2 separate regions of the Homo sapiens genome follow, and region 1 is linked to region 2. The links come from fine-mapping of genetic effects on gene expression. Tissue or cell type: nucleus accumbens. Region 2 holds a variant in brackets; the other region holds the start of a gene. All regions are shown on one strand. Distances are from middle to middle.

Evidence for each region. PIP is the estimated chance that this variant, and not a neighbour inherited with it, causes the effect. A credible set is the group of variants that fine-mapping cannot tell apart.
Region 1: it holds the start of SPATA9, and the variant in region 2 is the best candidate, but not a certain one, in a credible set for the expression of SPATA9 in nucleus accumbens (GTEx, PIP 0.57).

What each region holds. Positions count from the first base shown.
Region 1 is chr5:95,681,585-95,684,502 of GRCh38, reverse strand. SPATA9 (spermatogenesis associated 9) reads left to right here and starts at 1,512. Exons shown (of 5, transcript NM_031952.4): 1 at 1,512-1,709; 2 at 1,887-1,975. The coding sequence starts at 1,649. The region is part of intron 1 of LOC105379090 (a long non-coding RNA gene); the gene reads right to left.
Region 2 is chr5:95,628,679-95,631,596 of GRCh38, reverse strand. All of the region lies in intron 1 of LOC112267933 (a long non-coding RNA gene), which reads left to right. Among named protein-coding and RNA genes, the nearest start is that of GPR150, 10 kb to the right of the region's middle. The variant G/A (reference allele first, on the strand shown) is at 1,702.

The DNA of each region.
Region 1 (2,918 bases), 53 kb before region 2:
TTCCTCTAGATTTGTTAATTTTATAGGATGCCTAGGAGGGAGAGGACTGATGAAAAGAGAAGAAAATTGGGTAAAACCAGTTGGGCAATGACATTGGAATCAGTGGATAAAAAGAACTAGGGGATGGTGGAAGGGAGGAGAATGGAGAACAGGGAGGAAGACCAGAAAGAGAAGGATCTGCCAGGTGTTCATCTGCAGTGGACGCTGATGACCAACTATCTTGCTAGGACAGATAAAGTATTTCATTATCTCATAGACTCCCAGCGTGTGTATTCATCATTGTCTAGTATGATTTTCTTTGTACCGATGGATTGCACTTTCCAAATGTTAAGGGCATAGTTATCTTAACCATGAGAGTCATGAGAGGCAAGCAGGTTCTATTTTGGTTAGGAGAGGTGAATGTGGTATGGCGGAGGGTGTTCTAAGGCAGATTGTGGACTAAGAACACCATGAGAGCTGGGGATTTTCAGGCTTCCCATGCTAGAGGAATCCTGGGATGAAGATTTCTCTTTCCCAAACTGTTCCCATGAAGACACTTTCAGCAGCCGTGGCTTTATGCTTGCTGAAGAAAGTGGTCTAGCTGCAATTAAATATGAGGGCTTCAAATTAGAATGGGATTCAGGTTAACCAACTATTTCATTCACACTAAAATATAACTAGGCTGTCGGCCGGGCGTGGTGGCTCACATCTGTAATCCCAGCACTTTGGGAGGCCGAGGCAGGCGGATCATGAGGTCAGGAGATGGAGACCATCCTAGCTAACACGGTGAAACCCCGTCTCTACTAAAAATGCAAAAAGTTAGCCAGGCGTGGTGGTGGGTGTCTGTAGTCCCAGCTACTCGGGAGGCTGAGACAGGAGAATGGTGTGAACCCGGGAGGCTGAGGTTGCAGTGAGCCAAGATCGCGCCACTGCACTCCAGCCTGGGCAACAGGGCAAGACTCCATCTCAAAAAACAAACAAACAAACAAACTATATATATATAAAACTAGGCAGTCAATCAAGTCTGCATGGTATCAAGTTCTTCCCATATTTGATCGGGGGAACTAATGGTCATCTGACATGTGAGGGTACTAGGAGGGTAAAAGATGAAGAAAAGAGATTGAGATTATAAAGCAGAGAAACCAAAGACTTTACAGTTTTGCCCGAGTTTGACCTAGTGATCCTCATTGGTGAAGCAAAAACAATCTATTCAGAAGTCTTTCTGAATTCACTGCTGGTGTTTCTTTTCTATTTGGCATCATATATAAAGCATTTCTTTTAAAGCACATGCCATTTTTTTTCAAAGGGACCTTTTGTTCTCAGATGATCCATTATTTGTGGTATCACTGCAGAATTTGGGACAAATTTCAACTTATATCATAGAACTCCTTAGTGTACTTTATTATTCAATCCCCTCACTCCTTCCCTTATGCCTCCAAACACACTCCTCTTCCTCTCACTGCCAGAGTGATGTCAGAAGATTCTGTAGCAGGTTCTCGGAAGCCTATTGTACAGTAACAAAGAATTCCAGCAGTGAGCTGTGAGTTCTGTCCTTGCTGGCTTTCCCAAGTGGAAGGCTACCCTCATCTTTCACTAATGGCAGACTAGGACAAGCATTACCCAGGCCTGCAAGCTTGTTAAGGACTAGGAACCCAAGCAAGAACTCACCATGCCAATCAAACCTGTTGGGTGGATATGTGGGCAGGTGTTGAAGAACTTTTCTGGAAGAAGTATACACAATCTTGTTGTAAAGGGCGTATGGGTGTGGGAACAATTGGGAATAAGATCCCCTAGAGTTCCTTTACTTTCCGAGTCATCTAGGAATTTGATCAAGTGTTTCATGTTCTTTTGAAACATTTAGGGGATGTTTTCAAAGTTTTCTTTTTCCTAACCTCTTTTTGTCTTAGTCGAGGGGATCCAGAAAGCAATCATGGACCTTGTAGATGAGTTTAAAGATGAATTTCCCACCATCCTAAGATTATCACAGTCTAATCAGGTAATGTGATTTTATAACCTTTAAAAGGAATAGAAAAAATATATTCTATTTTTAGTATCATACCCATTATTTAATGCTTGATTTTGAGATCAGTGATCAAAACTTTAGAAAACACTAATTTTGCCTCAGAAAAACAAATTTCAAATATTACTCATTAAGAGGGGTCTTTGGGAAGCAGAGAGATTGTGGACCAAGAAGTGAGGTAGATTGAGAATTAAGTTTAAAGACATTAACTATGTCATTAGGGTAAACACCTGGCAGTCTCTCAACACTACAATTGCAATGTAAAATCAGAAAAATACCTAGATACACTTTAGCAAAAATCTATGTCAAATCAGTGCAAAACCTTGAGATAAATTGTAACAATGGAAAGATAAATACAACATGGATGTGTGTTTAATAAGGAAAGAAAACAGTAGTATCAATTTAAATAAGGTATACATGTATATTTTTTAAACCTCTGTTCCAAAAAGGATTTGAAACAGATAAAATATTGGGAGTGAAAGAGGAGGGAGGTATATATTTTGAAGAGACATAAAGTCAGGAAAAAGTAACAACTTGTTTAGGGAACACATGTAACCTAATTTACTCAAAGGCACACAGCTCTTAATGGAAAAATGTGGTTCGGTCATTTTGATCATAGTTGGAATAGAATATGCTGTGAAGGTACATGGTACAGGAACAATCCACTTATCCAGAAGTCAGACTCTTGACAATGTCAAACATGAGGTATATAACCAAAACCTGGCAGTTAACAAAAAGCACTCTGATTAACACAGTAATCACAAAGTATACATATTTCATTCCAAAGGAGGGATATTAGAGCTAACTTTAACCACGCCTGCAGACAACCAGCCATCAGACATTTAGTAAACACCTCACTATTGCTTGGGACTGGAGAGAGGAAATACAGAGATAAACACGACGTGATCCTTTCCGCTAA
Region 2 (2,918 bases):
ACAATTTTCGAGTTTATTTAGGCAGACAGTGATTCATGAGTCAGGCAGCTCCAAACTGACAGTGGCTTGGGCTCTTCTGAAAGGGTTCAAGGGGAAGCCCTTTATAGGGTGAATGCAGAAGCAGAGCAAAGAAATTATTTTATTGGTAAAAGTTTAAGCAGTTGCCTCATTTGGATTATCCCAGTGGGAAGTTCAAGACAATATGACTAATGCCCAGTTGGCCTCTTGTAATTGGCTGAGCTCCAGTTTCATTTTCTTTTAAATTCTAAGTTAGCTTTTGGTTTGCTTAAGTAGGAACCCAGGGCATCAGAGACACATCAATCTAATGGCTTCCTATTTAATTATTTTAACAATTATTATTATTCCTATTGAATATCTTGCTTAATACAACAATACTAGAACTGCTAAAGTATGTCAATAGCAGGAGCTTCATCACAAGAAAAAAAGGGGATTTGGTTAGGGCCTGACTCTATCCCTTGAATTTAACCTTCCCCTTGGAGCTCTCGCATTTCATTATTGGTGTGAAATCTCATCAAATTATATGATAAGCAGTTAAACATCCCAATTTGACATGTTATTGGAGACTAGAATCCAGGTCTTCTGAAATCTGGGTTTTCTGACTCCCTTTTTTAATGCATTCACCACCATTTTACCAGTCTATCGATTATTTAGTTACCTTTTGCTGTGAAACAAACCACCCTGAAACTTACCGGCTTAAAATGATTTATTATGTCTCACAGTTCTGTGTGTTAACTCAACAGTTCTTCTGTTGATCTCCCCTGGGCCCACTCACGCGGGTGCACTTATTAATAGCTGGAGAGTCAGTTGGAGGCTATGCCCAGCTGGGATGGCTGAGTGGTTAGGCCTCTGTTTCCACATGGTCTTCATAGCATGACAATGTCACATCAGCTTTTCTGAAAGGGCAAGCTGTCATGTATAAATGTTTATTGAGTTCCTACTTGTGAAACATCTGTACACAATGCCCCATTGGCCAAAGAAGGTCACATGACCAAATTCAGACTACGTGTGAGGAAAGATTACCCAAGAGTGGGTATTAGGAGGAGTTATTCATTGGGGGCCATTACTGTAATAATCTACCTAATATGGTTTGGATCTGTGCCCCCACCAAATCTCACATTGAATTATATTCCCCAGTGTTGAAGGTGGGGCCTTGTGGGAGGTGATCGGATCATGGAGGTGGAGTTCTTATGAATGGTTTAAAGCCATCCCCCTTGGTATTGTATAGTGTGTGATTTCTCACAAGATCTAGTTGTTTAAGTGTGCAGCACCTCCCCACTCTCTCTCTTGCTCCGGCTCCAGCCATGTAAAATGTGACTGCTTCTCCTTCACCTCCTGCCATGATTGTAAGTTTCCTGAGGCCTCCCCAGAAAAGAAGTCACTGTGCTCCCTGTACAGCCTGCAGAACCATAAGCCAATTAAACCTCTTTTCTTTATAAACTACCCAGTCTCAGGTATTTCTTTTCTTTTTTTTGAGACGGAGTTTTGCTCTTGTTGCCCAGGCTGGAGTGCAACGGCACAATCTCTGCTCACTGCAACCTCTGCCTTCTGGGTTCAAGCAATTCTTCTGCCTCAGCCTCCCAAGTAGCTGAGATTACAGGCATGTGCCACCACGCCCGGCTAATTTTGTATTTTAGTAGAGTTGGGGTTTCTCTATGTTGGTCAGGCTGGTCTCAAACTCCC[G/A]ACCTCAGGTGATCCGCCCACCTCGGCTTCCCAAAGTGCTGGGATTATAGGTGTGAGCCACCATGCCCGGCCTCAGGTGTTTCTTTATAGCAGTGCAAGAATGGACTAGTACAGAAAATTGGTATCATGAGTCGGGGATTGCTATAAAGATACCTGAAAATGTGGAAACAGCTTTGGAACTGGGTAATGGGCAGAGATTGAAACAGTTTGGAGGGCTCAGAAGAAGACAGGAAGATGAAGGAAAATTTGGAACTTCCTAGTGACTTTTGTGACCAAAGTGCTGATAGTAATATGGACAATGAAGTCCAGGCTGAAGAGACCTCAGATGGAAATGAGGAACCTATTGGGAACTGGAGCAAAGGTTACTTTTGTTATGCTTTAGCAAAAAACTTGGAGGCATTGTGCCCCTTCCCGATGGAGCAGTGAAACTTCTAACTTGAGAGTAATGATTTAGGGTATCTAGTGGAAGAAATTTCTAAGCAGCTTAGAAATGTGACCTTGCTGCTTTTAACAACCTGTGCTTATATGTATGAGCAAATAAATGACCTGAAACTGGACCTTATATTCAAAAGGGAAGCAGAGTGTAAAAGTTTGGAGAATTTGTAGCCTGGCCATGTGATAGAAAAGAAAAGCCCATTTTCAGGGGAGGAATTCAAGCAGCCTGCAGAAATTTGCATAACTAAAAGGAAGGCAAGTGCTGATAGCCAAGACAATAGGGGAAAGGCCTCAAAGGCATTTCAGATCTTGTGGCAGCCCTTCCCATTACAGGCCCAGAGGCCGAGGAGGACTGAATGAATTCCTGGGCCAGGTTCAGGGTCCCCCTGCCCTGCACAGCCTAAGGACACTACTCCCTGCATCCCAGCTGCCCCAGCTCTAGTCATGGCTAAAAGGGGCCCAGACACAGCTCAGGCTGCTGCTTCAGAGGGTGCAAGCTGTAAGCCTTGGTGGCTTCCACATGGTATTAACCCTGTGAGTGCACAGAATGCAAGAGTTGAGGCTTGGGAGCCTCTGCCTAGATTTCAGACCGTGTATGGAGAAGCCTGGATGTCCAAGAAGAAACCTGCTGCAGGGGCAGAGCCCTTACTGAGAACCTCTACTAAGGAAGTACAGAGGGGAAATGTGGGGTTGGAGCCTCCACGCAGTCCCCAGTGGGGCACTGCTAATGGAGCTTTGAGAAGAGGGCCACCATCCTCCAGACCCCAGGATGGTAAAGCAAC